7 linked regions of the Homo sapiens genome follow. The protein of the gene in region 5 interacts with the protein of the main gene of each other region in a pairwise test. Each region holds a gene or a part of one and is shown on either strand. Other genes may lie near its edges. The genes, in order: ZNF286A, PSTPIP1, CLK3, ZSCAN30, RNPS1, ABI2 and STX11.

What was found.
Region 1: the proteins of RNPS1 (region 5) and ZNF286A interact in binary tests that used the Homo sapiens proteins (3 or more experiments, as listed by UniProt).
Region 2: the proteins of RNPS1 (region 5) and PSTPIP1 interact in binary tests that used the Homo sapiens proteins (3 or more experiments, as listed by UniProt).
Region 3: the proteins of RNPS1 (region 5) and CLK3 interact in binary tests that used the Homo sapiens proteins (3 or more experiments, as listed by UniProt).
Region 4: the proteins of RNPS1 (region 5) and ZSCAN30 interact in binary tests that used the Homo sapiens proteins (3 or more experiments, as listed by UniProt).
Region 6: the proteins of RNPS1 (region 5) and ABI2 interact in binary tests that used the Homo sapiens proteins (3 or more experiments, as listed by UniProt).
Region 7: the proteins of RNPS1 (region 5) and STX11 interact in binary tests that used the Homo sapiens proteins (3 or more experiments, as listed by UniProt).

What each region holds. Positions count from the first base shown.
Region 1 is NC_000017.11:15,719,020-15,721,287, reverse strand, and holds the end of ZNF286A (zinc finger protein 286A), read right to left. Parts: 3' UTR 501-2,268; downstream 1-500. UniProt on the Homo sapiens protein: May be involved in transcriptional regulation.
Region 2 is NC_000015.10:77,012,126-77,015,625, forward strand, and holds part of PSTPIP1 (proline-serine-threonine phosphatase-interacting protein 1), read left to right. Parts: intron 1-3,500. UniProt on the Homo sapiens protein: Involved in regulation of the actin cytoskeleton. May regulate WAS actin-bundling activity. Bridges the interaction between ABL1 and PTPN18 leading to ABL1 dephosphorylation.
Region 3 is NC_000015.10:74,625,836-74,628,268, reverse strand, and holds part of CLK3 (dual specificity protein kinase CLK3), read right to left. Parts: coding exon 2,301-2,433; intron 918-2,300; coding exon 823-917; intron 731-822; coding exon 601-730; intron 300-600; coding exon 217-299; intron 1-216. UniProt on the Homo sapiens protein: Dual specificity kinase acting on both serine/threonine and tyrosine-containing substrates. Phosphorylates serine- and arginine-rich (SR) proteins of the spliceosomal complex.
Region 4 is NC_000018.10:35,255,730-35,259,229, reverse strand, and holds part of ZSCAN30 (zinc finger and SCAN domain-containing protein 30), read left to right. Parts: exon of another isoform or gene 1-1,291; coding exon of another isoform or gene 1,292-1,302; intron 1,303-3,500. UniProt on the Homo sapiens protein: May be involved in transcriptional regulation.
Region 5 is NC_000016.10:2,261,627-2,265,126, reverse strand, and holds part of RNPS1 (RNA-binding protein with serine-rich domain 1), read left to right. Parts: intron 1-366; 5' UTR 367-483; coding exon 484-554; intron 555-795; coding exon 796-951; intron 952-1,839; coding exon 1,840-2,031; intron 2,032-2,284; coding exon 2,285-2,387; intron 2,388-2,695; coding exon 2,696-2,849; intron 2,850-3,500. UniProt on the Homo sapiens protein: Part of pre- and post-splicing multiprotein mRNP complexes. Auxiliary component of the splicing-dependent multiprotein exon junction complex (EJC) deposited at splice junction on mRNAs.
Region 6 is NC_000002.12:203,376,894-203,380,393, reverse strand, and holds part of ABI2 (abl interactor 2), read right to left. Parts: intron 187-3,500; coding exon 10-186; intron 1-9. UniProt on the Homo sapiens protein: Regulator of actin cytoskeleton dynamics underlying cell motility and adhesion. Functions as a component of the WAVE complex, which activates actin nucleating machinery Arp2/3 to drive lamellipodia formation.
Region 7 is NC_000006.12:144,157,017-144,160,516, reverse strand, and holds part of STX11 (syntaxin-11), read right to left. Parts: intron 1-3,500. UniProt on the Homo sapiens protein: SNARE that acts to regulate protein transport between late endosomes and the trans-Golgi network.

The sequences.
Region 1 (2,268 bases), on a different chromosome or scaffold from region 5:
GTAGCTGGGATTACAGCCATGTGTCACCATGCCTGGCTAATTTTGTATTTTTAGTAGAGATGGGGTTTCTCCATGTTGGTCAGGCTGGTCTCGAGCTCCTGACCTCAGGTGATCTGCCTCCCTCAGCCTCCCAAAGTGCTGGGATTACAGGCTTGAACCACCGCACCTGGCCCATTTTGCCTAATTTTAACTGTGCTTTTTATACGAAGTTATTCCCTCCCTTTCACCCCAATTAGCCCTACTGAGTAGTGCCTATACCTGGCCTGGGGACTCAGTACTACTTGTTAGAAACTATCTTCCTCTACTCCTTAACCTTCTTGCAGATACTTGGGTTGCTGACGGTATCTCCCATCCCATCTCTCCAGAAGTTGTGAAGCCAGATGACCAGCTAGAAATGGGATTGGTATCCTGAATGATATGGAGATATTTTTTGGTTGGTCCTTCATTACATCTTAAAATATGCTTTAAAAAAGGAAGAATTTAAAAGCAATTTACAAAAGTTTCTGACAATACATATACAAACATCTTTATTGACAAGTGAGCCAATAAGGGCACATTTAGTTTACAGATAACCAAAAACATTTGAAATGCATAACATTAAAATTTCCAAGATTCATGTTGCAGTACAAACATGTGGCAGGTTAAACATCAGGCATAAAAAGGACAAATACTGAAACGCAAAGGGCCAGAGATCCCAAGTCGCTTAACACTATTTAAAATGTTATTCAACTGCAAACTTCAGCCTCTGGAACCATCCCAGATAGCTACTGGTTAAGTGATATGAAGTAGGAAAAAAGAAGGTTCTGGAAGGTCTCAAGGAGGCTGTGCAGAAAACAGCACCAGATGGAAGCAAGAGCAGAAAGAAGTCACGTCCCATCTTTATGACAAGACACAGAACAAGATGGTCACAGTTCTTCATGGGTAAACAAAAGATGTGGAAGACACAGCCAACCTTAAGTAACTTCTACTGACGGATGCTCTGGCACTTCTCTATGTAGAGAAGGAGAGAGAAAGAGAGCACCAAGCAGGAGTGGGGGACTCTATATTTATTGTCTGCCAGTTCTTTTATATGCATTGTCTTATTTAATCCTTATGACAACCTCATGAGAAGCCAATGATTTATTCCCTTTGTTGAAACCTAATACAGATAAAGAAACTGAGACTCAGAGTAGGGAGTTTTTCCAAGGTCACATGACTGCTTAGTGGGGATGGCAGAATTCAAACTCAACTTTGGAAAGCCCATGTTGGTCTTCTTTCCTTAGTCAAATTTTGGCTCTCAAATGAATTCCTCTTCACTCAAGAATTTGGCAAGTTTCAATAACTTGAATTCTCCTAACAATATATAGTAACATCCTAGAGGTAGGAGTATTTTGATGCAGCATTTCCCATCTCTTTTATTTTTCTGTCCCCAATTATCTCTCAGTACTTTTCCATTCCACCTAGTTTCTCTGACTGGTTTAAACCCTTTATCTGACTTGATGAATGCTCTGGAACAGGGGCCAAGAAAATATTTTCTGTAAAGAGCCAAACAGTAAATATTTTAGGCTTTCAGGGACATACAACCTACTATGGGCTATATCCCCATCAAAGTCATATAATGAAACTTAACTGACGGTATTACGAAATGGGGCCTTTTGGAGGTGATTAGGTCGTGAGGGTGGAGCTCTCATGAATGGGATTAGTGCCCTTATAAGGGGCTGAAGATACCAGAGCTCTCCCCTTCTACCATGTGAAGACACAGTGAAAGGTGCTTTCTATTAACCAAGAAGCAGACCTTCCCTAGACCCTAAATATGTTGACACCTTGATCTTGGACTTCCCAGCCTCCAAAACTGTGAGAAGTAAGTTTCTGTTGCTTATAAGCTGCTCTGTTTGTGATATTAAAGCCCAGAGGCACAACCTCCGCTGCAGCTACTCAGTTCTGACACTGGACACAAAGGCAGTCAAGGACAACATGTAAATGAGTAAGTGTGGCTGAGTTCCAATAAAATTTTCTTCTGAGAAACAGGTGGTGGGCCAGAGTTGGTCCATGAGTCCAGGCCACAGTTTGTCAATTCCTGCTCTAAACCATTAGTACTAAATACTAAGATGATAAAAGAGGTGAGTTCCTTTTCCTGTGTTTTCTTTTCTTTCTTTTTTTTTTTTTTTTTGAGTAATGATACAGTTTAGATCTGTATCCCCACCCAAATCTCATGTTTAATTGTAATCCCCAATGTGGGAGGTGGGGCCTGGTGCAAGGTGACTGGACCACGCAGGTAGTTTCTCATGA
Region 2 (3,500 bases), on a different chromosome or scaffold from region 5:
CATCCATCCATCCATCCATCCATCCATCCATCCACCCACCCACCCACCCACCCATTCACCCATCCACCTGTCCATCCATCCATCCGTCCACCCATCTGTCCATCCATCCATCCACCCACTCATCCATCTACCTACCCATCCACTCATCCACCCATCCACCCACCCATCTACCCATCCATGCATCCACCCACTCACCCATCCCTCCATTTGTCCACCTGTCCACCAGTCCACCCATCCACCCACCCACCTATCCACCCATCCATCCATCCACCCACCCACCCATCTACCCATCCACCCATCCATCCACCCACCCATCTACCCATCCACCCATCCATCCACCCACCCATCTACCCATCCACCCATCCATCCACCCACCCATCCATCCATCCTTCCATCCATCCATTCATCCATCCATCCATCCATCAAGTTGTACCTGAGTGTTTGGTCCTTTGCCTGCCTCACTTTGCCAACCAGTAATGGTGGAGAGGAGTCCCACTGTGGGGTACTGACTGTAGGGCGGTGGAAGGAGCCTGGTTGCTACCCATTGACTTAGCATCCCTGTGCCTCTGTTTCCGTATCTATACAATGGGGATGATAATTCCTGTCTCAGAGGACTGTTGTAAGAAGTAGAGGGGACCAGTGTGACTGGCTTCTTTAAAGGTGCTGGGTAATGGGTCATTGAATCTGCAAGCAAATGATCTGGTCCCCTCCATGGGGCACCTCAGGAAGCAGCCGTCATAAGGCCTTGTCCTCTTGAAGGCCTCACTGAGGCGCTTCTCCAGCCCATCACTCAGCATGTCTGTGAGCAGAGCTGTGTGTAGGCACCAGGTGCCGGGATCCAGTGGGGAACCTGAAAGACCCCCCTCTGCCTCCATGGAGCTCAGCCCTTCCTACCTCAGGTTTTCAGTCCACAGAAGACAAGCAACAGGAAACTAGGTGCTAGCAAACCCACAGTGTCAGCCACACTGGCTGCAGATGTCACTGCTGGTGTGAGGGAGGAGAGCACCCCAGCACCATGCAGCTCCGTGCAGCTACCTTCCAAAGCTGCTGCTACGTCTTGCTTCCCCACCTGTGGCCCATGCTGGAGCTTTCCCAGTCATCTTCAGGTGTAACCCAATCCAGTCCAAGCTAGTATCACAATTTCACTCTCATTCAATTTAAAGCTCCCCAGTTCCCCGACTTTCACTGGAAGCCTCTGATGGGGAAAAGAGAACAGGGTCAGTTTCCTCCCTTGCCATGGGGTACCCACACTGCACTGCCAGCTGCCTCTGGGGTCTCCATGGGGGGGTGGTGGGGCACAGGCCGTGACTGTAAAGGGGAGAAACATCTCATTGCCCTGGTACTGTTGTAACTGGTGACAGTGAATGCACACAGGTCAGCCCTTTCTCTCCCTGGCACCTGGGCAGGTTTTTTGGTGACCCTGCCCCCCTGGAGTCCCTGACCACTCCGTTCCCTACAGCCTTCCACTTCCAACCTCTCCCGTTGCACCCAATAGTCTGCTCCACTCAGCTTCTCCTAGGGGCTCCTCTCTCCCTGTCAGGCTATTCTCATGGACAGAATTACCAGGCAGCTCTTCCTGGCTACCTTCCACGGCCCCCACTTGGTTCCCAGGGAAGATTTTGGTGCCAGTTCTTGGACATAGCAGGTAGGAACTCGGACCAAAACCCAGGTGTCCCCCTCCAAGGTTGGAGGCTTAGCTGTCCTCTGATAGATGCTGTATTCTGGAGTGCCAGGCAAGGGAGCATTTGAAAAAGGCTCTGCTCCCCTTTAAATGGAACCTCTGGTGGAGGAAGGTGTGTAGGGCGAGAGGGGAGGTGATGAGGTGACTCATTTCTTCCAGCCTGGCCCCAGCTGAGGGAAGGTGTTTCTGGTCGGGGAGGTGGCAGGCAGGCGGGGAGGGCTCGGGGAGCTGCTGCTTGCTGAACTGCCCCTGGGTGACAGGCCCTGAGTGTGGGGCTTTGCAGAGAGGCAAAGTAATGGGAAGTTAACAGCCAAGATCGTGGCTTGGGATATCTGGGTTATATCCCAGCTGCACCCGGCAGGTCCCTGGGCAGATTGGGTAACCTCTCTGGGTTACCTTTTCCTCATCCATAAAATGGTAGTCATCACCCCTAGCCCAGTATCTGCCTTGTGGTGAGCCCTGATCTTGAGTCCACTGTTCTCACCTATGCGCACGATTTCACTTGCTTCTCGGGTCACCTCTAGGCGGTGAGAACTATTAGGCCCATTTTCACAGGGAAGGAAACAGGCTGAGAAGGGCCAGGGTCACGGGAGGTGTGAACCCACATCTAGTCAGTCAGACCCTTCCCAGCCTCTCAAACAGGCCCGAGTACCCTCTCTGACCTGTGGCCTACACTAACAGGACTGTGCCCTAGAGGGGCGGGCTGTCAGGGCCCGAAAGGGGGTTAGCCTCCTGCCCCCACTTTCCCAATGAGGAAACCAGGTCCTGAGAAGTAAAGTGGCTTGCTTCAGGCCCTGGTGTCTGTGGTCTCGCCCCTGCAGCCACCAAGAGTTATGGGCGTGAAAAGGGGGAAGTGGCGGTAGTTACAGAGGGTGCTTCTCCACTCAAGCCGTGGGGGTGTGGAGGGCCCTGGCCGGCTCACAGGCCTGGGCCGTGGCTCACACCAACACCCACCAGAGAATGAAGCCAGTAGGCTGTCCCTGACAGAACAGGGCACCCAGGCCTTGGCCACACTGCCTCAAGGCAGAGGCAGGAATATGTTTCCTCCCAAGAGCCTCCTCCTGGAGTTCTGGGATGCCGCCTGAGGCCGATGGCCACACACCATGGACGGCGAGGGCTGGGTCCCACATCTGGCTCAAGTGAGCCTCCCAGAGGAAGAGACTGTGCCCGCTCCCCACCTGGCACCCCTAATCCAGGACGGGTTATCCTGGGTGCCACATGGCTGGGCCGTGACCACTGGCTGTTCATGGGTTACCCAGAGCCGCACTCCTCTGACCCAGCCTGGGCCCCAGGCTAGCCTCTGTGAATCCACAGTAACTGAATTATAGCCCAAAATACAGCTTTGATTTGAGGTGGAGATAATTTGAGTAATCATTTTCAAGAGTTATTTTTTCAAATCATGTTTGGATGTTCCAAAATAGAAAATGGTTCCTGGGCTGTCTACTAAATGGCTGATGTAGGTATATGGCTTTGGGGACAGGTTGACCTGCATTCAGATCCCAAACTCTGCCCTTTACCCATTGAGTGGCTTTGGGCAGTCTCTTTCCCTGTTTGGGCCTCCTGTCCCCATCTTCGCCTCCCGAGATCTGTGTTGTGGTCAGGAAGATAACGCTATGATACCCTTGGTGCAGTGTGTGCCAGGTAGACTTGATAAATAGAGATTTCACAAAGGGCAGGGCCACAGGCAGCATTCGGATGACAGAGGTTGGACAGGATGAGGGGAGATGGAGGTAAGAGGAGTGGGGGACAACTAGGGTAGGTCCCCTGGGGGTGATGCTGATGCTGGGTCTTGGGTGGCAGACCCACATGACTGATTAAG
Region 3 (2,433 bases), on a different chromosome or scaffold from region 5:
TGGCCTAGCATAAGACTCCTCTGAGTGTTCCAGCTACCCTGACCTCTGCCTTCCCTTTAGCATCTACATCCTTAAAGGGTCTGAATCTCACATGATGATTAGTGGGAGGAGGAAGACACCTGTCTTCTCATCCATGTGGGGCTTCCCACCCCAGTGGCCTGCAGCCTATCACAGTAGCAGTACTCAGGGTAGGGGACCAATGCAGGGTGGCTGTACCTGGAAGAGTGTGAAGCCCCGGTAGTACTCAAAGAGAATGCAGCCAATGCTCCAGACGTCACAGGGCTGTGCCCAGCCCAGCTCTGCAAGCCAAGATGGGGAGAGGCTGTGAGATCCGGCCTTATGCTTCCAGCCTGGAAGTCACAAGGCAGCCACCACACCGGCTGGCAGGACTCTTGCCCAAATCCCAGTACGAGGCCCTCTCTCAGTAAGGCTGACAGATAAAGCCAGGTCAGTCACCTGTGTCTCATGACACTGGCCCCTTGGTCTGAGAAACTCTGCCTGCCCTGGGTGGCAGAGAATGACAGGCATGCCACTGCCTCTGCTCATACCCTCCCAACAACAGTCCAGTATGACAAGGTCACAGGCCATACAGTCACTCACCAAGGATCACCTCAGGCGGGCGATAGTGACGGGTGGCCACAATGGTGGTGTGGTGCTCATGGTCAAATGTGGCACTGCCAAAGTCAGCCACTCGGATGCTGGTGTTCTTCACTGACTTCTCCTCACAGCTCTGAAAGGCAAGGCAGGCCTGCCAGGTCAGGAGTCTGCACCAGCGGGTAACCCACCCCTGAAACAGGGCCTCACCCTTACCCCCACCAATACCTTGTGCTCATTGTAGAGGGTTTCAAACTCAGAATTCACAAACAGGATGTTCTCTGGTTTCAAGTCTGTATGGGTCAGCTGATTCTCATGCAGAACTAAGGTAGCAGGGAAAGAAGGGGAAGTAGGCACTGAGAAGCTGGCTCTCCTGCCAGCTCTAGGCCAGACCCCTCTTCCAATGCCAGCAACTGCCAGAGGTCCTCACACCCCCACCTCAGCAGGGAGCTGGACTACAGCCTGCCTCTGTGCTGGCCTCCCTCTCAAGGGTTCTCTGTACTTGAGGCCTTGGAGGGTTCTGATACTTTAGCAGGGGGGTAGGAAAGAAATTTGCCATTCGAAAAACCTCCCTCCACCTCTCCTCTGCAGAGACCAGGCCTCCTCACCTGTCTCTCAGCAGAGCTACAGCAACAGCCTCGAGGTGGTTCCCTCTTCCCTGCACCAGCTACATAATTTGCAGGGCCCTTTGCAAAATGAAAATGCAGGTCCCCTGTTCAAGTTACTAAGAATATTAAGGTGGTGGCAAAAGGACATTAAATCAAGCACAGGGTCCTGTGCGACTGAGTGCACAGGTCGCATACCCAGGAAGACAGCCCCGCCTCTCATTGCTAGTCATAAGCAGGCAAGCCTTTCCCCTCCAGCCCCTTCTGACAGTGGCTTCTTGCTAGTAGTCACTTTTCAGCTCAAGGATCCCATCTGGCACTCAAGACCCTCACAACTATGTGGCCCACCACTCCCCAGTGGCAGTCTACTCCACTGGAGCCAATTCTCAGCCCGTTAACAGGCTCCAGGCCTCACCAAGCTGTTCCCCTTGCTTGGAATCCTTGTCCCTGTCCCATCTTGCAGATCCTGTGGGAGGAGGAAGACACCTGTCTTCTCATCCATGTGGGGCTTCCCACCCCAGTGGCCTGCAGCCTATCACAGTAGCAGTGCTCAGGGTAGGGGAGCGATGCGGGGTGACCTTGAGCGATTCTAGCTCAACGCCTACCAACTTCACCAAGGAGCCTTTCTGTACTGCTGCAACCATTGCAAATCCTACTGCGCTGAGCCCTGGCACTGCCAAATAATGCTTTTCCAGGCTGGCAGGGAGATGACAAGTCAGGGTTAGACCGAGGGTCTCCATGTGGGCAGGACCTGTGGTGCTATCTGTCAGGTCAGGCTTCTACCTTTTTATCCCATGCATGAAGCAGGGAGGCAGGGTTGGTGGTTAGGCCAATTCCAGAGCAGTTCGTTTCTGTTTTCTTCCTGAGTGCCTGGGGGTAGAGAGGCTGGTCCAGGAGGTCCCTGGAGGGAGCCCTAGCCTTTCCATCCTCACACTGAGATTCCCACCCAAAGACAGGCCTTTCCGCCAAAGGGGATCTGGTGTCCCTCAGGCCCAGGAGAATGGTTAGTAACGTGCTGGAATGAATGGGGACAACAAGTAACCAGATGACTTGGCTGCAGGCATGTGGCTGCCCATGCTTCTTTTGAGGGTGGACACTTACATCTAAGGGCGTGGCAGAGCTGGTAGGCCATGTGCCGGACATGTGGTAGGGGGTAAGGCTGGAAGTTATTCTCCTTCAGGAACTCAAAGGTGTTCTTGCCCAGGAGCTCAAAGGCGATGCACATGTGACCGTG
Region 4 (3,500 bases), on a different chromosome or scaffold from region 5:
ACAGAGTGAGACTATCTCAACAACAACAAGAAAAGAAGGTGGCCATCATCTGCAAGCCAAGGAGAGAGAAGAAACCAAACCTGCTGACACATTGATCTTGGACTTCTAGTCTCTAGAATTGTGAGAAAAGAGATTTCTGTTGTTTACCACCCATTCTGTGGTATTTTGTTGTGGAAACCCTAGTAAACATACTATATTAAAATTCTTCCTTATGTCCATATGAAATACTCCCAACTTTAATTTATTCATAATCCACTTTCTTTAGTTTACAGAGTCCTCATAAAACACAATCTATACTTGAATGCAGTGAGTACACTGCACTTTGACCTTTTTTTTTTTTTTTTTTTTTTTTTTTTTTTTGAGATGGAGTCTGGCTCTGTCGCCCAAGCTAGAGTGCAGTGGTGTGATCTTGGCTCACTACAACCTCCAACTCCTGGGTTCAAGTGATTCTCCTGCCTCAGCCTCCCGAGTAGCTGGGACTACAGGCACCCGCCACCACGCCTGGCTAATTTTTGTATTTTTAGTAGAGATGGGGTTTCACCATATTGGCCAGGCTGTTCTCAAACTCCTGACCTTGTTATCCACCCGCCTCGGCCTCCCAAAGTGCTGGAATTACAGGCATGAGCCACCGTGCCCAGCCTCCTGACCTTGTTTTAACTAAGCCTCTCACTCCCTCTGATCCCATCTGTGTTCTGTCTGTTTGGATATCTTGCCACTTTTCTCTGGACATGCTTCAGTTTCTCCACATTCATCTGAAGTTTGGGGATCAAGACAAAATAAAATACTCTAATGAGAATCTGATTGATTTAAAATATATTCACCCTCCAACTGTTATCTGTTACATTTTTTAACTTTTTATTTTCTTATTACTTCATAGTGGCAGTATGTTGTTGACTCAGTCACCATATCAGTAATAGTGACTCTATCTCTCCAATGTCCTTGGACTTAGCAAAATTTACTCGTTCTCCATTTATGCGTGGTCCCATGGCCATGAATGGCCTTGACTGGGTTCCTGTTAAGTCTCCTTATGCTAGTCTCTTTTCAGTCTTGAAAGTCTTAGCCCTGCCTCTGAAGAATTAATGTGGATCCTTTCACAGCTTTCACCTAGGTCATGAGGTTTAAATTGTTGGAGAGGCCCACTGTGATATGATTGTAAGAGTCACCATGCCATTTTTACAACCTTGAGTTATAAGTTTCTTGTAGGTGCTTCACTAGCCTCATGATATGCCTTGCCAGAAGTAGCGCCTGAGATGGAGATTTGGGTGCAGGTGATTTATTGACGATGTGTTCTTCAGGAAAAATCTGTAATGGAGAGAGAGAAGCAGGATTAGGAAGGGAAAAGAGCAAGCAATGATGTGGTCTCAGTTACAGTCTAGGCTTGGTCTAATCCTTGGAGCATTTCATGGGCCGCTGAAGCATAATTGCACTGCAGAGTTGTCTCTTCTTGACGCAGAGATGGGGCAATGAAGGTGGAAGTTACTTCCTGGGCCAAGTGGCTCTCATCAGCCTGGGTAATTCTCCACAGAAGGAGGCATCTCTGTATAGTTAGGAGCTGTCTTAATCGGTTAGGACTGCTATAACAAAATACCATCAACTGAGTGGCTTGTAAACAACACGGATTTACTTCTCACAGTTCTGGAGGCTGAGAAGTTCAAGGTGCTAGCAGATTTTGTATTTGGTAAGGTCCCACTTTCTCATGGATGGCACCTTTTCACTGTGTCCTCACGTGGTGGAAGGGGCAAATGAGCACCATAGGGCCTATTTTATAAGATCACTAAGCCCTCATGACCTAGTCACCTTCCAAAGGTCCGCACTTCCTAATACCATCACCTTGGGGGTTAGGACTTCAACATATGAATTTTGGGGAGACACAGACATTCACATCATTGGAGGAGCCAACATTCACAGTGGCTGAGGGAAGGAGGCATCATATTGGTAAAGGGGAACTGGGTGGGCAGTGGAGCATCACTGACATAGCATTAAGGCTAAAAGCATACTCGTCAATATGCAATTGAAGGCCACATCCCTAGTTAAAAGGATTTTAAACTAAACAGGATGGAATTGCTCACTGAACTGCTGAGCTGGCAGAACTCACTGAGGAGCCACCCCAGAGAACAAGTAAGAAAAGCAGGAGGTGTGTTAAAGAGAAAAGCTAGCTGGGTGTGGTGGCTCGTGCCTGTAGTTCCATCACTTTGGGAGGCTGAGGCAGGAGGATTGCTTGAGACCAGGAGTTCAAGACCAGTCTGGGCAACATGGCAAGACCCCGTGTCTACAAAAAAAATTTTTTAATTAACTGGATGCAATGATGCGCACCTGTACTCTTAGTTACTGGGGAGACTGAGGTGGGAGGATCCCTTGAGTCCAGGATTTCAAGGCTGCAGTGGCTGATAATTGTACCACTGAACTCCAGCCTGAGTGACAGAGCAAGACTCTGTTTCAAAAACAAACAAACAACAACAACAACAACAAAAACAGAAGAGCTCTTCTAACAGAGATACCTGTGCCTTATTTCTCCTCCAAAGAGCCTCTTATAAATCTGTACCCCACCCTCCAGCCTCCAGACTTGAGCCTGATTACAAATTAGTTTTCATTCTTGGGAGATAGTAATTGGGTTCTCTCTATGCAAGTATTTCTGAATAATCAAGTGACCATTTCTTATTGTAATCTTTTTTTTTTTCTTTTTGAGACAGTCTTGTTCTGTCATGCAGTGGTGTGATCTTGGTTCACTGCAACCTCCACGTCCCTGGTTCAAGTGATTCTCGTGCCTCATCCTCCCGAGTAGCTGGTATTACAGGCGTGCACCACCATGCCTGGCTAATTTTTTATACTTTTAGTAGAGATGGGGTTTTGCCATGTTGGCCAAGTTGGTTTTGAACTCCCCTGGCCTCAAGCGATCTGCCTGCCTCAGCCTCCAAAAGTGCTGGGATTACAGGTGTGAGCCACCGTGCCCAGTCTCTACTTGTAATCTCTATTTGTCTTTTCTAAGAATTACTCTAGTTAGCTATTTATTCCAACTTTTTAAATATAATAATAAATGTATAGTTGAACAAATAAAAATCTTGATGTCTTCCTGATGTATACATCTGAGGACAAAATTTTTCTCTAGTCTCATAATTTGACTTCATATAGTTACAGAATTTGAAGACGTATTTAAATCCCATAAGTTACATTGCTTTTCTAATTTTCATTGCCCTTAATTTTGTCCCTACACAATTATATTGCCACTTTATACCCTATAATTGATGCTCTTAATAATTTGACCTATTTATTACTTTCAGAAAATTTCTCATTAGGTTGTTGGGTCTCTGACTTTAACCTATTTGGTACTTTTAATTTTTATGCCTCTATTGTATGCAAGTATATTTTTCATAAATGTTTTCTTTTTGAATGAAACAATGAATAATTTAAATTTCTATCTAAAATCCAAGGACAATATGAATTTTAGAGGTGATGTCATCTGTGTTTAATTTCTGGTAAGGAATGGGGAAAACGGGAAGCCA
Region 5 (3,500 bases):
TAGGTTTTTCTCTGTTCTGCATGTGAATGTGGTGCTGTGGCATTTTGAAAGGACTGCAGGGGCTCATCAAACTTGTGGGTGAAAACTGAATTGTTCAGCCTGTAAAATAACAGTGATGGTCTCCACCATCTCCATTTTTTAAGAAAAAGATACGCTGGGGCGACAGTTGTACCTGTGCCTCCTCTGCGGGGTAGAGACGCCTCCAGGAGCACATGGGGACTGTCCCTATGTGTTCCTGACTGTGTGGACACTTATTGCTTACCGTGCTCCCTTGCTGCCTTTTTGTGTGCTCAGCTTTTGACTGCAAAGTAGACTTGTTGCCTTGCCAATTCGTTCACTCTTTAAACCCTTTTATCTTGTTATTAGGCTGCTCTTTGGCGTAAATTGCAATCGATTAGGGATCGTTTCTCAGAATCAAGTTAGAAGTGAGAGTTCAGATAAGTGAGGCCGCCATTGCTGCTTTGAACACCTCAGAAGGGGAGAATGGATTTATCAGGAGTGAAAAAGAAGAGCTTGCTAGGAGTCAAAGAAAATAATAAAAAGTCCAGCACTAGGTAATCCTTCTGTAAGATTTTTCTAGTGCTACTTGGGGGTGCTTACTGCTAGGGACCCGCAGAAAGGGGAAAGTTGAGAATGTTCTGCATTCTACAGTGAGTGTTCTGAGCCACAGACCACTTTGCTCTGTGGTCACCTCGGGTCTCTGTGGCCCTGCTGATGCTGATCCCCCGTTTTGGGTTGTGCTGTTTGGGTTTGGTCAGAGGAGCACGCAATCTCACACTCTTCCTCACCATCCAGGGCTCCTTCACCTACCAAACGCAAAGACCGCTCAGATGAGAAGTCCAAGGATCGCTCAAAAGATAAAGGGGCCACCAAGGAGTCGAGTGAGAAGGATCGCGGCCGGGACAAAACCCGAAAGAGGCGCAGCGCTTCCAGTGGTAGCAGCAGTACCAGGTGGGGCGGGCTGGCCTGGAGCCTGGAGAGGACCTGTGCCACAGCTACACCCCCACTCCCCACAGATGGCTCGGTTTTCTTGATTATTTACAAAGAAAACACATCCTCTGATTGTTAGTAGAGACCCTAATTTATGGCAGACTGGCTAGGTGCAGTGGTGGCTCATGCCTATAATCCCAGCACTTTGGGAGGCCGAGGCAGGAGGATTGCTTGGGGCCTGGAGTTCAAGACCAGCATGGGCAACAAAACAAGAGCTCGTCTCTACAAAAAAAAAAAAAAAAGAGTAATTTGTAAAATTAGCTGAGCGTGGTGGCATGCATCTGTAGTCCCAGCTACTTGGGAGGGCTGAGGCAAGAGGATGGCTTGAGCCCAGGAGTTTGAGGAAAATAAACAAAACTAGCCGGGTGTGGTGGTACACGCCTGTACTCCCAGCTACTCGGGAGGCTGAGTCAGGAGGATGGCTTGATTCCAGGGGGTTGAAGCTGCAGTGTGCGGAGATCATGCCACTGCACTCCAGCTTGGGTGGCAGACCCTGTCTCAAAAGAAAAAATCAACCTAGCCTGGGTCAGCATCAGCCAGCAGCTGCCTTCCCAGCCTGAGTTGGCAGTTGTGACTTTTGCCAGAGTCCTTTGCCTCCCAGCAGGAAAGGCTTCTGTATGGGTAGAAGGCAGCCCATCACCTCTGTCCTGTCCCACACACAATGTGACACCTAGGGCTCTGACTTGCTGGGGGATTGGGGGGTGATGTTTTCCCCACTGCTGAAAGCAGTGAGGCCTGGAGGCACCCGAACAGCAGGTTTCTCCTGGGGGGAGCACAACAGAATTGGAGGAGGCGTCTGTACTGTGAGACTTGGTGTGTGGTGGTTGTGACCCCTCATCTTGCCCTCAGGTCTCGGTCCAGCTCGACTTCCAGCTCAGGCTCCAGCACCAGCACTGGCTCAAGCAGTGGCTCCAGCTCTTCCTCAGCATCCAGCCGCTCAGGAAGCTCCAGCACCTCCCGCAGCTCCAGCTCTAGCAGCTCTTCTGGCTCTCCAAGTCCTTCTCGGCGCAGACACGACAACAGGAGGCGCTCCCGCTCCAAGTGAGTGCCCTGCGCCTGGGAGCTAAAGTTTACAAGCTCGGGGCTACAGATTTACCATCGAGGTTATAAAAGGGACCCAAAAGGAGTCTTTCTGTGTTAATAGGATTTCTGAGACAGGAATAATGTATGTGAACTAGCAGGAAAGTCTTCCTTATGAAAACTGTCACACAAGCAGATAAGAGCTTACTCGAAAGGCGTCTAGTACATTTTGACTTGACAGAAATTGTTTCTGGTGTTTTGTTTTCTCAATCAGATCCAAACCACCTAAAAGAGATGAAAAGGAGAGGAAAAGGCGGAGCCCATCTCCTAAGCCCACCAAAGTGCACATTGGGAGACTCACCCGGAATGTGACAAAGGTGAGGATCATGGATCTCTCCTGTGGGCAGTGGGGTGTGGACAAGCAGGCCTGTGCCTGCAGATGAACTTAGAATGTAGCCTTTTGGAGGACTGGGGTGGTGGCATGTGGTTTGAGTACAGCATTGATTCGTTCCTCTTGGTGGACCATTAATACATGTGTCTGGGAGATTTATCCCAGAACAACACTGGTACTCATCAGATGGAATGTTTTACCCTGCCGAGGTTTTAGTCATGATGTGCTGAGCTCTCTGCGTCTGACGTGACTGACTGGTAGCTGGGCGTTGGCGTGACCCTTCTTTCCCTCTAGGATCACATCATGGAGATATTTTCCACCTATGGGAAAATTAAAATGATTGACATGCCCGTGGAAAGGATGCATCCCCATCTGTCCAAAGGCTATGCGTACGTAGAGTTTGAGAATCCAGATGAAGCCGAGAAGGCGCTGAAGCACATGGATGGAGGTGGGTGACCCTGCCACATAACCCTGACCTCTCAGAGACCCGCCGCCGCGAGGGGCTTTCAAACTGATTTCCAACTGGGCTGCACTTCTTTTTGTTTGTTTGAGACAGAGTTTCACACTTGTTGCCCAGGCTGGGGTGCAGTTCCTGGACCAAACTGAGGTTTGGGCTGCTATTTCTCATGGCCCAATAACAAGATGCACATTAACTGAGTAGGTGGAGTTTTTATTTCTGCAACCAGTTGCAGGGAAAAGGCCTGGAAATTATTGCCAGACCAACTTAAAATTACAAAGTTTTTCAGAGCTTATATATTTTTTAAGCTATATGTCTATACATATGTGTACATTTATGTAAAGACATAAGTTACTGACTTTTAATCTATTAACTAAGGATTGAGTCTTGAAGACCTTCCTCTGGAGCCTCAGTAAATTGACTTAATTTAAATGGCTGTGAGTGCTGGGGTAATTACCCTTGCTTTGCCTTCTGCTAAATCACAGCAGTTTGGGGAGTTTTCTTCCCAATAAAACTGGCTTAATCCTAAATGGGTCCTGACGTATTCTTCGTTATTTTATGTTTTAAGGCCCAGGAAAGGCCTAAGCTAAACTTTTGGTGGGCTTTTCTTATATCCCAGCCTTTGTATAAGGGCCTTGGCTT
Region 6 (3,500 bases), on a different chromosome or scaffold from region 5:
TATACCTACCTTTACTCCATGTCCAATATCATCTAGAATTGTATAGTCAATAGGTTTTCTAATATAACGAACTGGTCGTTCAAGGTTGGCTGGAGCAATAATCTTATGTGTCCTTGAAGTGTTTTTATTGGTAGTCAAAATACCAATTTCTCTTCTTGCAACTTTCTCTTTATGAATATCAACTGTCTGCAAAATATAATGTAAAAAACAACACAAAAATGTATAGTTCTAATATCCACAAAAATCAAAATATATATGCCTAGAGATTTAATATTGCTACTCATATTCTAAACTATGCTTGCTAAATTTTTATTCTTCTGGACTACTGATTTTCTCCATTTTTAGGTTAAAGCAAGGGCTGGTAAACCATGGCCCACAGGCCAAATCTGGCCCATCATCTGATTTTTACAGCCCACAAGCTAAGAGTGGTGTTTACATTTTTTAATGTTTGGAGAAAAGAACAACCAAAAAAAACCTTCACGTGAAAATTATATAAAATTCAAATTTGCTTTTCCATAAGTAAAGTTTTATTGGAATACAGCCATGCCGCTCACTTGCTTATCTGTCTAGGCTTTACACTGTAATGGCAGAGATGAGCCACAACAGAGATGGTATGGCCCACAAAAACTGAAGTATATATTAGCTGGCTCCTTTACAGAAAAGGTTTGCCAACCCCTGGGTTAAAGCATGCTAATTTTTCCCTCTCCATTAAGATTTAGACTAATATAGTGATTAAGAAAGCCCCCGAAATTAATCTAGTTACATTTCTAATGACCTATTAGTATAATTTCTATTCATGTTTAAACATCTTTTTATTTAAAAAGAAAGAGGGCTGAAATATAATGTTAAAAATAAAGCCAGGCACAGTGGCTCAGGCCCGTAATCCAAGCACTTTGGGAGGCCAAGGTGGGCAGATTGCTTGATCCCAGGAGTTCATGACCAGCCTGGGCAACATGGCGAAACCCCGTCTCTACAAAAAGTAGCTGGGTATGACAGCACATGCCTGTAATCCCAGCTAACTGAGAGGCTGAAATAAGAGAACTGCTTGAGTCCAGGAGGTCAAAGCTGCAGTGAGCCATGAATGCACCACTGCACTCTAGCCTGGGTGACAGAGCAAGACCCTGTGTCAAAAAACAAAAAAGCCATTTTTTGACCCCAAAAGACCAAGTTGCTTGGGCAAAGCTGCTTATATTTTATCATGACAAAATGCCTGTAAAATATTTCATTAATTTATTTATATTTATTAAATGCTCACATAAGACATACGAGTAAGAATGTATTGTAATTACAATCTTCTATTTGCTAACAGAGGGTGAATTTCTCCACATACACAGGTAATTAGTACACTAAAGCAAAATTTTTTAAACTGCAAGCTGCAATTTAGTGGTATGTAAGCAGCAATTATTTCAAATCAAATAGAACAGAAACATCAGACTGCATGTACACATAGTAAGGTAAAATACTGTTTCTTGAAAAGTCTGTTTATTATATATATAAATATATACATGAATTATGTGCTGAATACAACGTAAAAAAAATTTTTTCCTGTGTGTCGCAGTCAAAAGAGTTTGAAAAATCACTTCACTAAAATGGTTCACATCTCTTACCACCAATTCCTGGCTCAAGCAGCAATCAACAGACACATTTTTTGCTAACTCCTCCCCAGTCCCACTTCAATGTCCTACTTCAATTTCCCCTTTCTAAAAGAACCTGGTAGTAACAGTGAAAAGATAATCATCATGACATTATAAAATACTGCTTTAAGAAATCTGAACACTGATCATTTATCCTTCTAAACTGCCTCAAGTATGAGGTAAGCCTGAAACAAATTCAAAGCCTCTTATTTCTCTACAACCAAGAGACCTTAAAAACAACAGGATCTATATGTTCCAGAGCTAACGAATGTATAAATGGAACATCAAATAAAAAACTAACCATGGTAGTAATCTTACAATTTTAAGTATTCAAGAAAAAAACAATCTCAGCCAGGCATGGTGGCTCACGCCTATAATCCCAGCACTTTGGGAGGCCAAGGTGGGCGGATCACAAAGTCCGGAGATCGAGACCATCCTGGCTAACACGGTGAAACCCCGTCTCTACTAAAAATACAAAAATTAGCCGGGCATGGTGGCGGGTGCCTGTAGTCCCAGCTACTTGGGGGGCTGAGGCAGGAGAATGGCGTGAACCCAGGAGGCAGAGCTTGCAATGAGCCGAGATTGTGCCACTGCACTCCAGCCTGGGCAACAGAGCGAGACTCCATCTTAAAAAAAAAAAAGAAAAGAAAAGAAAAAGAAAAAGAAAAAAAATAATCTCTAAACTTTTCTACGCATGTTAGGCTAATTATGAGAATAGCTTTCCTCTTCAACTGCTTGGGAAAACTGTAACAGAAAAGTTAAGCTTGCATATTAGTGATGATATTGGAATTCACTTAATTTTTAACTTTAGAGAAATGGAAATTAATCACATTTGGATTAAATTTTATTTTTATGAGACAGTATCTCACTCTGTCGCCCAGGCTGGAGTGGACTGGCCCGATCATGGCTCACTGCATCCTCGACCTCTCAGGCTGAAATGATTCTCCCGCCTGAGCTTCCTAAGGAGCTGGGACTACAGGCGTGTTCCACCATGCTGGCCTAATTTCTCTACTGTCTGTAGAGTTGGGGTTTTTCCATGTTGCCCAGGCAGGTCTTGAACTCCTAAGCTCAAGTGATCCACCCACCTTGGCCTCCCAAAGTGCTGGGATTACAGGAGTAAGCCAATGTACTGGCCTTGAATAAAGTTTAGTGAGTCATTCTAAATCATTAAAAGTATGGGCTAGAAATACCATTTCATACCATCAAGTATGCTTCAAAAAATAAAATATGACACTTTTTTTATAAAATGGGTCTTCGTCAGATCAATAAAAGGTTCATCAGATAACACAATCCTCAAGACATTGTTTTTATTCTCCTCAGTTTTTAGAAATGTACTTAACTTATTCAGAAATGAAACTATAAGAGTGTAAACCTGAGCAGCCATAACAGAATTACAAGCTTATAGCTTCTATTTCACATCTGCATACTATAAATATACATTTTTTTGCAACAGGTTCTCACTCTGTCACAGAGGCTGGAGTGCAATGGGACAATCATAGCATACTGTAGTCTTGAACTCCTAGGCTCAAGCATCCTCTTACCTCAGCCTCCTGAGTAGCTAGGACTACAGGCATGTACCACCATGCCCAGCTAATTTTATTTTTTGTAGAGATGGGATGTCACTGTGTTGCCCAGGATGGTCTTGAACTCCTGACCTCAAACAATGCTCCTGCCTCAGTCTCCCAAAGTGCTGGGATTATAGGCATGAGCCACTATGCCTGGCACATACTAGAAATATTAATAAATCTCCAGAGAATGAACAGGGAGAAGTAATCTTCCACTTATTATTTACACTAACACACAGTAATATTTTATAACAAGCACATATTTCTTGTTTGAAAAATTGAGACTTTAAAAAAGCATTAA
Region 7 (3,500 bases), on a different chromosome or scaffold from region 5:
AACGAATCTGGTACTTTTTCAACCCAAGATTTGCCTGTTAACTTATATATTAAACTTAAGGTCCTTTATCTATTGAATATAATAAATGTAAATAAATTGCAGCAGAAGAGCTGCAAAGCTTCAAAAGTTAAAAATCAGGAAGTCTCAAACCTTACCCTAAGCTTACAATTTATGGGGAGAAATAAGGAGGTACAAAAATAATTTTTAAAAAGGCCAGGCACAGTGGCTCACTCCTGTAATCCCAGCACTTTGGTAGGCTGAGGCAGGCGGTTCACCTGAGGTCAGGAGTTCGAGACCAGCCTGGCCAAATATAGTGAAACCCCGTCTCTACTAAAAAAATACAAAAATTAGCTGGGTGTGGTGGTGCACACCTGTAGTCCTAGCTACTTAGGAAGCTGAGGCAGGAGAATCACTTGAACCCGGGAGGCGGAGGTTACTGTGAGCAGAGATTGTGCCATTTCATTCCAGCCTGGGCGACAGAGTCTCTCAAAAATCATAATATTTTTTTAAAAAACAAGAACTGGCCAGAAAAGGAGAAAAAGGACCCAGCATGAGCCACCAAGCTGGGTGGAGGTTGCAAATTGCAACACTGGGGTTGTGGCCTCTTCACCCAGGGCATCAAAAGTGACCTGGAAAGATGAGAAACCTCAGTGGGCATGGACTTCTGGGGCAATGCACTTCACCCACTGTCTCCAACAAGACCCAAAAGCAAATCTGTCAAGCACCCTCCTAGGCCGTAGTAATCAGATCCTTGAGATTAATTTTTAAAAGGCTGTGATGTAAGTTCATGATTTTCAGAGCTTTACATTTATTTTCTTCCACTGTATATTACATATTAAAATATTAACAAAGTAACTTCTAGTAATGGTGCATTGAATGAGACACACAGAAACTTCCCTCTCCGTTCCTTGTTACCTATTTTACCTCATTAAATGAAGGCGTCATTTTCCTGTACTGTCTTTTTCCACATACTGGACGGACACACACACACACACACACAGAGTCAATTTTGAACTAGCTCAACCAAAAGATCTTCCTTTGTTAAAAAGTAGTCTCTTGTAACCAAAGCCAAATCCGTAACTTCTATTTTGATATAACTTATATTTCAGGAAAATGAGACACTTCCTCTGACCTTAGACTAGGCTGGGTTTCCAGCTCTATAATTTCACTTCGCTTTTTCTGGTACTCACCATATTTTATTGGTAGTTGTTTGATAACATATTCAATTGTTACTTATCTTCTCTGCTTGCCCATAAGCTTCATAGGGTCAGGAGCTGTACCTGTTGTGTCTGCACCATTTACTCCAGAGCACCCGGCATATAGGAAAGCCTCGATAAATAGTTGTTGAATAAATACGCTCACCAGAATCGTTATTTTTTTCACTCATTTTTGATGAGGCTAGGTCTCTCATACACAAAAATGAAAAAGACTGTTCTTGCTCTTACAGGCTGTTAGAGAGAATAATGATAATAAATGCCATAATAGAGGGATCTATGGGAATACTTTGAGAAGTCAGTCTGGCCACAGGGCAGGGAAGGTGGTGTCTGAGCTGATCCTAAAAGGTTTAAAAGGAGTTAGCTTGGTAGGGAGAAGGGAAAGGGACCCAGGCACAGACAACTTCAGCAAAGGCATGAAGCCTGGAAAGTGTAAGAAACACAGCAATTTGGTGTTTCAGGAGTAAAAATTGGTAGGCTTAAAAGTGCTTTTCCCTTTGAAGAAAAAATCATTGCCAATGTCAGTGAATCAGATAATATACCATCCTACATTTATGAATGCTTAACATTCTCCTGTAAGTTATCTCTGATCTCATTAGACAATTATTAAAGTTTTAAGAAAGCACCTCAAAGCTTCCTCTGGCATAAGATATCCTAAAACCTTCTTATTCTCCTAGAAATCCATCCTACATTTATGAATGCTTAACATTATCCTGTAAGTTATCTCTGATCTTATTAGACAATTATTAAAGTTTAAAAAAAAGCACCTCAAAGCTTCCTCTGGCATAAGATATCCTGAAACCTTCTTATTCTCCTAGAAAGTTTACTGATTCCTCTAAGTTCACTGATTCCCATCCCCCATCTGCAACTATTCAAAAAATTTGGCATCTCTCACTCTGCTATCTAAGATAGTATAAGGCCAAGCCAGGGACACCACTCTCCCTCTTGCAATCTTGGTCAGAAGCCAGCAAAGGAATTTGGGCTGTGCTGTCTGTTGGCCACATCAAGAATTTAAATGAAAAGCAAGGGATGACTCTCACTATACCAGGCCTGCTGGGACTAAGGCTCCGGTGCTCCTCTGCTGTCCCACGGTTCCCATGACTTCTGGATAATCTGAAAAAATCTCAATAGAGTTGGTCACCACGAAAGGCATAAGAGTTTAGGGTGAAGGTTCTCAAACTATAGCATGTATCAAAATCTTCTGGGGAAAATGTGTTGAAAATGTCAATTCATGGGTTCCACCCCTGGATTCTATTCCAGTGGATCTAGAATGGGGCCCTGGACTTTTATTTCTCTTTTCTTTTTTTTTTGTTTTTCCCCTGTTTTTTTTTTGTACTGAAATATCTTTGGTAATTCTGAAGGTTATAATCTACAGACTACACACTGGACTGGTTTGAGGACTTTCAAGGGCTTGAAAGAGAGAGCGAGAGAGAGAGCGGGGGGAACCCTAATATCACAAAATTGTTCAACATTTAACAATGTTAAAGCCTAGCATTACAGCAAGGACTGGTGTGTGTTATGCTTTTGTTCTGGGTCTGGATAGCCACAGCTGTTTGGGTGGCTGAGTTTAGCCACTCTGGGTGCCAGAGTTTAGCCTTCTTTGTTAAACACCACTACTGCCCTCACCACGGCCTACTCTCCCTGGCTCTTCTGCTCCTAATCTTCTTAGGATTAAGACTACTTTGTCTTCTTGCTCTCTGGTCAACTATTCTAAAATCCTTAAGGGCCTTGGAAAAAAATGACAACTTTCTGGGCTCCACTCTGCAAGGTGATGGTCTGGGCCATCAGACACAAACAAGGCTGTTGCAGAGGAGAATGCTCTCTTGGCTACAAATGTAGTAAATGATGTGGTATCCAGATCCCCTTCTGGACCAAGATCCTCAGTCCCCCAGGTACTAGGAAGGTTGGCTGCTGAAGGCTCCCAGTTCCAGAAATTGCCCTGGACTGAAGGGAGCTGCTGCCTGCATCCAATGATTAGTTGATGTAGGTACAAATGCTGAGCCTCTTGCCTCAGGAGGCAGAACAATTCTGAACAACAATCCCAGCTTCCAAGCTCCTCCCTGTTGAGGCCGCTGTTGTGCATGCCCCACAGTTCAGTCTCTCCCCCTGTGCAATCCCGTTTCCCTCTCTCCTACTGTGTATTGTGCCCAGAGCACTTCCCAATAAAAACCTCCTGTATGGAAATCTCAGAGTCTCAGGGTCTGTTTCCTGGCAACTTGACCTGAGACACTGAACTTGCGCCTTTCAGTCAAGTCCTGACAGCATCATGTAGCAGGCCTCTGCATT